Regions from separate parts of the Homo sapiens genome. Here region 2 is reported to be linked to region 1. Evidence: microRNA targets listed by miRTarBase, many of them from high-throughput screens and not tested one by one. Region 1 holds a microRNA gene; the other region holds the end of a gene's coding sequence.

Region 1 (5,530 bases):
CAGTTCTGATTCTGACAAGTTACCAGCTGTGTGATCTTGGACACATTACTTAACTTCACTAAGATCAGTTGTCTCATCTGTACCTCCCCAGGCTGTGGTGAGGTTTAAATGACATCAGACATGTACAATATTTCACAGAGGGCCTGGCTCACATTGAGGGAGCAATTAGCATTAGTTATTATTGTCTTGGCAAACATGGCCTCTAAATTAGTTTCCTGGGACTGAAGGTGGCATATACTCATGACATTTATTAAGCTTCGAGAGTCCCATATACTAATTCTCTAATTTCATTATTCCTCCAACAACAAGTCTACATTTAGATGGCAATGTACTGTGTAAGATCCATATTCACAAACATTGCATTTTTTCCTCTGACCTTCAGTCTATTTCTCTTGTGATATGCCACATAGCATTATCCCGAGCCCCAATTTTTAGATACAAAAGGATGATAAAAGTGAAATAAAGTGGAACACTGACCATTAGATACCAACAAACTTAAGCAAATATTCCCAAACATTTAGCCAACTAATTATTGGGTTTTTTCCATGGTAGGAGTATGGTAAAGGAGAGTTGTTTTTACTTAATAACGATTTTATTCATGTGCATTAATCAAACATACATTATGCCAATGAGAAATTAATATGCAGGCCAGGCAAGATATATGATCTCTTCTATGCAGAGACAAATGAGTACTACACTGAGGGGCTGATATCAATTCAAGTAGGTAGTGCTTGGCAACTGACCACTGCTAAGAAAGACTTTGATTCATTCCTAAGTACAATTATTCCTACCTAGCCTATGTACTGTTACTGTGTGCCCAGTAGAGATAGGAATGCCATAGTGGTATCAAACAACTCCTGACCTAAAGGAATGTTTCTCCAGCTGGGGAAGAAAAGACAAGAGAACACCACCAGACCATACATAATGACAGTCCTACATTGTTCAGGACTAGCTGTGAATGCCCTAAGGCAGTGACTTTCTAAAATGTAGGCACCGTGGGCTCTTAAGAAATCCTTTCAGGGGAGTACAATGTGCAAAACAGACACAGAGGAGGTGAGTTGATTAAAGAGGAAGTGGAGGACCCCTCCCCTGTGGCTCCCTCCGGCTACTGAGATCACAGATTTTCAAACTGCCTGGATTTGAAAACTGGCTAAGATTTGAATGGACAGAGAGGAGGGAGGAAGGTGTTCTGCGTTAGGAGGACCAGTAAGCCCAAAGGTAAAAGGGTGGGAATTCAAATAAGAAGTGATAGGCCCTTCTTGGGACACCTAGTGAGGATGCACTGGTAAGTAGTGAAAGGAACCCACCTGGTTGCTTTTGGTGTTCAACCTAAATTAATTTTTGAATATTTTAAGCCTGGTGAAATAGTGAACAAATGCTCTAAATCAGGGCAGATGCGAAGCTTAAGGTTATTGGCCAAGTAACGAGTCTCGTCATTATTCTTTATTTCAGAGTCATTTCAAGTTGTCGTGAGAGGAAACGGCTTCCGACATGCCCGCAACGTGGACAGGGTCCTCTGCAGCTTCAAGATCAATGACTCGGTCACACTCAGTAAGTCCTTGCAGAGTCCATGGGTTTCTTCGACAAGTGGCTTCAAGGAAGGGAATTCCCACCCTTGTCTTCCAGCAAGGCCACACACATGAAACCAGCAGAAAAGAGTCTTATTTGCTGGAAAGACCCCCAGCAAGGGCATAGTGAGCCCTTACAGTGGTTCCAGTCAGAAAAGGCACCACTTGGGTGGGCACAGCCCCATGGGTGTCCAGCTTGGTAAGCAGAGCAAGGCTGGACTTGAGTCCCCGTCCTCCACAAAACACAGAGCCACAAGCCCCAGCCCTGCAGCAGCCCTCCGGAAGCAGCGGGGCACTGGTTTCCTTGTCCCCTGCCATCTACCGAGTGGCTCACTCTCAGGTGGGAGTGCTGGTGATGGTTAATTAGGACTGCAGAAACATGAGCCTCCTTAACAAAGTATTGGGACTCTTAAGGGTAAGTGTGAAAAAGGAATGGTCTAAATGCATTAATCTTGAATAAACCGAAAACCAAACCATTAGGCTTGCACATGTAGATTCTGCAGCTTTTTTCAATCTGGATGATTCTTGCGTGGAGTAGCCAAGAAACTCTCATCGTGGTGAATATCTTACATGAAATACAGGAATATGGAGTAAAACTAAGTGCATTTCATGAGAAAAAATGAATTATCATAACATTGGCTTCTTCACAAGACATTTGTAGCAGTCAAGTTCCTAATTTAAAGATGTACGTGATTCATGTGGTTGACCAGGAGAGATGGGGAAGATGATTATATGAGGGACAGATGCCAGAAGCACTGGTTATGATTTGCATCTGGCATCCGTCACACAGATAATTATTTATTCCACATCTGCAGTGATAACTGTCATAATATACTGCATTTTCTGTAATGCTATGTACCTTCTAAATGCTTCACATCTTTTTGCTACAACAGCCCTGAGAGGTAAAGAGAGCAAGGAGGACAGGAGGACACACATTTGTTGACTAATCACTCACACTAGTTTTCTCCTCCTGATAGCCTATTTTTTTTTTTTTTTTGGAGACTGAGTTTTGCTTCTGTTGTCCAGGCTGGAGTACAATGGCACGATCTCAGCTCACTGCAACCTCCGCCTCCCAAGTTGAAGCGATTCTCCTGCCTCAGCCTCCTGAGTAGCTAGGATTACAGGTGTGCATCACTACACCCAGCTAATTTTTTGTATTTTTAGTAGAGATGGGTTTCATCATGTTGGCCAGGCTGGTCTCGAACTCCTGACCTCACATGATCCACCCGCCTCGGCTTCCCAAAGTGCTGGGATTACAGGTGTGAGCCACCACACCCAGCTCCTCATAGCCTTTTGAAGGAGGTTATCTTGTTTTTAAAGAAGAAGAATTGAAGGGCTATGGATATTTCCTTCTTGACATCATAAAACCCACTTTAGTAGTTAAACAGACACATGCTGTGTCTTCCTCACAAACATCTGGAATTCCTGGCCTTGGAGTAATTCCAAACATTAGAAACATTCGGTTAGTTTTCTTAATATTTGGAAATGCTCTCACAGATCCAAAAAGTACGTGCTATTTGAAAACATTCTGAAATATCCCTGAGTAGTCACAGTGTGAAAGTTGGACGTGTGCCCCCAGCAGAGTTCTTTCTTTTTTCTCCCTGTCAATTGTGATGTCACTTAAGTCCCCCTTTTCTCTTTAACCAAAATCCCAAGTCTAACATCAGAAACTCCTGAAGGTTTAACTCAAAGACATCAATACCTTCCAAAGAAGACTTCCCAAACAAGCAGGCTTTCAGGCCCAAGCTCTCTGAAGATACATGGAAGTGGGCTGGGGAGAGAGAGAATCTACCCTATGTGCCGTTGCTCAAAGGTTACACAAGATGCTGTATTAAATAAGATGTGGCCAGGCACGGTGGCTCACGCCTGTAATCCCAGCACTTTGGGAGGCTGAGGTGGGTGTATGGCCTGAGCTCAGGAGTTCGAGACCAGCCTGGGCAACATGGTGAAACCTTGTCTCTACCAAAAATACAAAAAATTAACTGGGCGTGGTGGTGCACACCTGTGGTCCCCAGCTACTCTGGAGCCTGAGGCTGAAGGATCACTTGAGGCCAGGAGGCAGAGGTTGCAGTGAACTGAGATCATGCCACTGCACTCCAGCCTGGGTGACAGAGTGAGACCCCATCCAAATAATAATAGGAAGAAGATGAAATGCAAACTCACTATGGATTTGTCAAGTGAGTACTCGAAGGCCTATTTTCCAACTTCTTTGGGAAATTTTATTTCTTTCTTGGGAAACCAGTCCATCCCTCTCTCTCCTTTCTTCCTTTCCTAATATATAGTTGCAAACATATGCACAGGCTTGTCACCTCATTCATATTCAAAAAGAAATGGAGGTTGTTGGGGTAGGGATTTGGCTTAAATCACAAACCCGTGCCTTTAGCACAATACTAAGTTTGGAGAAGATGAAGGCAGTGATTTGATCATATTCTATGCTGCAAGCAACACCCCAAAACTCAAGCATACAGCTATTAAAAATATTCTAAGGGGAAAAATAGCGTTTGAGGAAAACACTTGGCCTTTAGTTAGTAATTCACCTGTTCATTTCCATGGAGAAAATAATATGAACAAGAACCTGTGGAGGTAGAAAAGATGAACAAATTCTAAAATGCAGCACGTTTAGATCTACATTTTTCTGTCAACTTTATAAATGTCATAGTTTCTACTGATTCCTCCCTGTAAAATAAAATACACTTAGATTCCTTTACCTTTCCCATTTTCCTTCCCCACCTCTATACCCCAAGTTTTAAAATGTTATCTGTTTTTATTTTTATATCACATATTTCTTTTTTCAAGATTTTTTTTCCTAAGTGCTGCATTGGAATTTGTGACAAAAAGAGAACATAAGTGCCATTATTAATGAGAAAGACTTAATTGAAGGCCCAATAATGAAGCTAAGGCTGTGTGGCTCTAGCCACTTCAAACATGAGGCAGACCTCAGGATCTTCAGCAAATAATGCAATAGCAAGCTATATGAAGCAAAATCTGTCAAAAGAACAAATTAAAAATGATATGGATAGTGGGAGATATTAATATGATTTTTCAAGTCTTAAAACTTAATTTAAAAGTTAGAGATATAGAGCATATATCTTTATGCTCTAAAGATATAGGTAGGGCATATAATACTTTTTTAAATGACTGTGAACAACTTTGCAAATTGATCATGCTAAGACATGGATAAAATGCCAATATATTAATGCCAAAAGTAGAAATTGTTTAGACACATTCTTAGATGATAAGCATAACCAGAAGATAGGTTAATACATGCTTCTCTCCCAATTTCCTTGCATTTGCTTAAAAAATCAACCACTTAGAAATCCAAGACAGTTTCTAGATTTGTGGTCAACAAAATAGATCCAAAAATCTGGATGAAATATGATTTTTAAAATTACATTGTGTGGCCTCACTCAAAGGAAAGAAGTGGGAATCTCCAAGTATAGGAAACAAAATGGGAATAAAAACCTAAGTAAGAAACAAAGTCACAGGGGCTCCAGGCCAGGCTGCGGGCTGTGACCCCGATGCTGATGCAGATACAGGACACCAGATCTCAGGTCTGTGCCAAGGCATCACACAAAAACAGAGCCCCCTGCAGAAATCAGGCTCCAGCAGGATACACCAATCATTTAATTGGGCAAGGAAGCAGGCAGGGGATGAAAATCCACAGGTGTAATGATGTTACACCACCCATGTGATACAGAAGCACCAAGTCAAGAAACTAGCCCCAAAATGTGTCCGTGATCTTCCTGATCTCTGTGGCCCTACAGAGGCCATGCACCTTCACCCTGTGGGAGTCTTCCACATAGCCCAGCCCCACAGCATGCCTGCAGCAAACAACCCCCTAAAGGTGGGCTGATGGCACAAAATGACAAACCATGTCAAGATGAATGAAACAAACAGAACAAACAAGAAGAGAGGATCAGAGAGCCAATCTGAAAGAGAATGGAAAATAAATGTGTTTAAAA
Region 2 (5,000 bases), not on the chromosome of region 1:
TCCAACCCTTTTGTTTTGTTTTGAGACAGTCTTGCTCTGTTTCCCAGGCTGGAGTGCAGTGGCACGATTATGGCTTACTGCAGCCTTGACTTGCGGGCTCAAGTCGGGGCTCTCCCCCTATAAAATTGAACGAAACTTCTACCTTGTATTTTGGCACCACAGTGGCCTGTTCTGTTTTAAAAGTTTTGTTTTAGAAGATTAAGAATGGCTTCTGCAAAAATCAAAACTAATTTAAACTGTGCTGTTGCTAATTCCCCTCGGCTTGAAAACCATGGCTTCCACTGTCCTGGGGTATGAAGAGGTCTATGTGAAAAGCGGTGGGAAGGCCATGGGAAGTGAGTGATGGAAGCCAGAGGTTTCCTGGGCCCAGACAGCTGTCCTGCTCAATATCTTCTAATCCAACAGAGAGGAAACACGATGACCTGGTAGAGTACTTGTTATTATATTTATTTATTTTTCTTTTAGCTATTTACAAAATTTTATTTCAGTATATTTTTCAGAAGCATAATTTTACGTTTCTTCATATTTTACTTTGTTAAAGTCCAGACCAGTCAAGGTCCTTTTCATGCAAAGATGTACATTTAATGAGGACAAAGAAGCCACCCAGTCACCTGGTGAAGCTCTGCTGCTTTGTGCCCCTTTTTGGGTCAGGTCGTCCAGGACATCCAGGTCTTGGTCTTTCTCCTCTTTTCTTGATTTTCACTGCCTGGGCCCAGCATCACTTCCAAAGACCTCCGTTTGTTTGATTTTACTGTATTTAATCTGCTTCACAGAATGTTACCGACTTGGCTGACCTCTGAAGAATCCCCCGGTACTGCCCTATGTCAGGCACCACAGCCAGCTGTGCTAAATTCGGGCACCTTTAGCTCTGCTGACTACTGACCCTGGGCATGCAGTCCGGCCGGCGAGATAGTGAGTGCAAAGTCTCACACAAATTGAGTCAATAGAAGTGACCCTGAACAACTGGGCTATTTCATAATTTAAGTTTATCAAAGAGAGACTTTAACATCCTCTCCCTCCCTCCCCTGAAAACCCAACACTGATAATATAGATTTTATATTGATCACAGGACACTACACAACAAACACAAAGACACTACACTTCTAGTAGGACGAGTCACGATTTCCTTTGATGTTGGGCTATGGAATAGCTAGAAAGTTACTGCTCATCACCACAGCAGGGTACCATGCGAGTGGATAGCTTAATAAATGCATTCATTAGTTAATGGCTTTAAGGGTTAGCTATTATATATATGGAATGAGGAAACCTCATTAGGAATGGCCACAGTCTCAGCAAAACTCAGCTCTAAATATGCAAAGACTTTGAAGTCCTGCTATTAACAAGATGACATGAATTGTAAGAATACATTTGACAGGCTCTAGTAAGACCCAGCAGATCGTCCATGACCTGTGCAAAGGCACCCCACAGTGGCAGATGGAACTGGCAAGAACTTGGTAGGAAACGTGTCACACATCCCCACAATAAAATGATACTTCAGAAAGACAGACAGGGGTGTCCTTCCCATGATAGTGGCAAAGAAGGGATCCTGGGTCGGGGAAGTCGATGGGAAGGAAAGAAATGGAAGGTGGGTAGAAGAGTAAAATAGGGGTTGTTGCATCCCAGATGCTGCCCAAGCTCCAAACTACCAAGCATTCTGCACTTCCAGAGTTACCTGGTGTGAGGTGAGGAGAGGGATGGGATGGAGGCAGCTTGCTGGACAGGGGGTGACTGCAGGCTGGGGAGGGGCTGGGAAGGGGTTGGGGACAGCTGAGGACTCAAATGACACAGAGGACAGACCACATACAAGACTCAACAAGGGGAGATCTGGCAACGTGCAGGCTAAAATGACCAAATCCATAGCAAACTCAGAAGGTTCACGTTCCCGAAAGGGTGTCACTGCCAAATCTCCACCTCATTTTGACACTTAACCTACAGAGTATGAGTCGCAGTAGAGTTCAACTGCTCTCATTGCAGCACGTCAGGGCAAGATATCCTTTTTAAGGTATAGTATTATATCTAGCTATATGGATCTATAGAGATATTTACAACTGGCCTCGCTGCCCTTCCTCTGTGCTGTGAAGCCTTCATGTGCATTGCTTCCAGACAAATCTTAAAACCCTCCTTTTCTTCACACTGCTCCAATCTCCCTTTATGACTTTATCCCAAATGAACTGCTTGCCACCACAGGGTTGAAAGCACCTCCAGGGTGCTGGAGACCCAAATCCACGTCAACCAACCAATGCTTAGGCTCCAGGAAGCCAGCCTTTCAATAGCCACATTGGGAGCTTCAGACATGGAGTCACTGCTCTCCCCTCCACCTGAATCTCTGTATGGGGTATCCAAAAATAAAGAGGCAATTTTAGCTCTTCCAGTGGTAACTTTCTTGTTTTCAACTGTCGTACAAGATTTGTGTGTGTGTATGTGTATGTGACTGTACAAGTGTCTATTCTCAATGCCTCTTTCAGCCTCACTCCCCAGCCTGTTACCCCGAAACATGTTCCTCTAGGACAAAGTGAAATGCTCTGTACTTGCAGCTTCTTCCATGGATTAACCACTTCCTACCTCAAGGCACTAGCTCACCACTTCTTAGGACTACATTCACTTCCCCAGTCTTCTATCTAGGAGACAGCACAGATGGATGGAGGGACAGGGCAAACAGTGGAAGGGAACTGGGAGATGCTGCTCCCTGGAACAGGAAGTTGGAAAGAAACAGTCAGTTAAGCAGCCCGGCCAAATAGGGCCCCTCCACCATATGGGAGCAGGCCAAGGGAATTATAGTGGTTCTAGAAGGGTCACCAACAGGGAATACATATGCTTTCAGGGGTATTTCCTTTCACACCCATTCAAATCAGATAAACATAGATATGCAGACATGCCCTTATATACATGCACTCAGCATAGACCCATGTGTACACAAGCATACACATACATAAGCCACACTTTCACAGGGATGTGCACACACACGCATGCATCCACATGCTGTAGATACAATTCTGTACACACCAATGTAGATTTACACCACTAGACACGGCACTATGCAGCTTCTCAAATGGTTGTATATGTACATACACCCACCCTGCTGCATATGCATACACCCAGGTATATACAGAAACACAAACACAGAAGCACAGTTAAAGGGTGAGTGGGTAGAGGGGTAAGGGACTGAGGGAGAGACTGCATAGGGAGGAAGAGGTGGCATATGTTGAGTGCTCGGCAAAGTTCACTCCCTCACAACCTCCATCAGTGAGGTGGAGCTGCTTGGCAAGTTGGAATGCTGGCCAATCCTACTTCCGTTAGGGGCCCTGCTCAGTGGGCAGAGTGTGTTCTCCATCTGCTCACGTCACGCTCATTGGCTGGTCACCAGCCTATTCCTGCAGAGATGCCCCAGGTGCTAGAGGATGTGGTGGGGGCCCTCTGGAGCACCCTCTTTAGGGAGGGAAGAAAAGGAAATGCCTCAGTTGGGACAGTCAGGAGGAAAAAGACAAGAAAGAGCAAGTGGGGTGGATCTACCACTCACTGGCTGCATGTCCTCAAGCATGCGGCATAAGCTCCATTCGTTTTCCTTGGAACACTGGGGACAATGTGCTTTGCCTTCCCTGGCTTACAGGGCTCCTGTGAGGCTCCAGTGATGTAATGGGTCAGGGAGCTTGTTGACACTTACTATGCACTAGACAAATAGAAAGGATTAGTATATAGACTTACGATAGATATTCATCTGCTAGTCTAGATCAGATGGTAAAATAGCAAGTGTGAATTATCCTAACCTTAGTGCTTATTCACCAAGTGCTGTAACTGGTGATCAACTCAGCAACTGACGGAAAGCTAACTCCTGACTTAGACAGATGTATTGAGTCTCTATTGCCAAGCGTTCTGAAGCAGAAATATAGGCAAGTTCCAATCCCTCCGAAGAGGCCAGCTCAACTGTGTAATTTCCAACCTGACATCACCCCCCACCCTCTGCCAACCCCACAAGCTGAGTATGTGCTCTCTCACCCTGATGTCTCACTCTGCAGCCCCATCCACCCACATTCCCCTTCCACGCTTGCATCAAAACACCACAGTCAAATGCCATACAGTGGGGGAAAGGCACTTACAAATGCTCCCTAAGTTTCCTATAGGAAGTTCCCTGAACTTCTAAGCCATGGCTAGCCCTTTAGCTATGAACCCCAGCCCAACCCAGCTTGACTTTCTTCTATAAAGCCCTAAGCAGAGGGTGAACAAGACCCATAATCCCTAGGAGGAAACAAAAAAAGAAGAAAACATGTAATGAAAAAGAAATGTTGACACCTCAAGGGGGACAGAAAAGCCCCCCAGAAATGTTTGTGGGCAAAAGGCCCAGATCCTTGCCCCATCCCCCAACCTGGCTCTTCTCTGTCCTCTAAACATTTCCAGGGGCTTTTCTATGCTTATTCCTTGTTACAAGTCTTTGAAAAGGTGAGAGTCTTCTAGCAGGAAAGGAAATCCATGTGCTGTATACCTCCAACTCCTCCTCAATCCCTTCCCTTCCAGCTAGAACATGTTCTTTCCAATTACTCCCCACCTCATGTTTATAAAGAGAAGTATGAACTTATTGGATTGCCCAAATAACCACAAAATAAAAGGAACAAAGGAAAGAGGGAAAAACAAACCCAAAAGAAACTGAAAGGAGCACAGCACAGTGCTCCCGCTGTTCTGGAGCACTGGGGGACTAATACATATGGTATACCCAGTAAACAATGTTGAACAACCCAAAGGCCAGAGGGAAGAGGAACCGGGACCACTTGTCGACCTTTGGGACGTAGTCAGGATTAAAGAGATCGAAGGAGAACCCTTCAGTGAAGGAGCACCCAGGGCTTGGGGGGCAACTATCCTCAGACTCTGAGCTACTGTCCTTCTCTTGGCCATGGGCCATGAGCTCATCATCATTAAGGCCCCAGGTACTGTTAGTATCACACTTGAATTGCTCCTTAATGGCAAGGCAGTCGCTCTTGTCATTGTTGTCATCAAGGTCCCAGCCTGCT

The links. Region 1 holds the annotated microRNA hsa-miR-3126-5p (UGAGGGACAGAUGCCAGAAGCA, at 2,302-2,323, shown strand). A microRNA usually pairs through its seed, bases 2 to 8, with sites in the 3' UTR of a target mRNA and lowers its output. Matches are read on the target gene's strand: a 7mer-m8 pairs with bases 2 to 8, a 7mer-A1 pairs with bases 2 to 7 and ends in A, and an 8mer does both.
Region 2: the mRNA of GABRQ is a reported target of hsa-miR-3126-5p. Seed matches in the 3' UTR shown: 7mer-A1 at 3,164-3,170 and 7mer-m8 at 2,642-2,648.

Annotation. Positions count from the first base shown.
Region 1 is chr2:69,101,390-69,106,919 of GRCh38, forward strand. MIR3126 (microRNA 3126) reads left to right here and starts at 2,293; the gene lies at 2,293-2,366. ANTXR1 (ANTXR cell adhesion molecule 1) reads left to right here. Exons shown (of 18, transcript NM_032208.3): 10 at 1,453-1,551.
Region 2 is chrX:152,652,969-152,657,968 of GRCh38, reverse strand. GABRQ (gamma-aminobutyric acid type A receptor subunit theta) reads right to left here. Exons shown (of 9, transcript NM_018558.4): 9 at 427-5,000. The coding sequence ends at 4,688. The region is part of intron 2 of MAGEA3-DT (MAGEA3 divergent transcript); the gene reads left to right. Among named protein-coding and RNA genes, the nearest start is that of GABRQ, 18 kb to the right of the region's middle.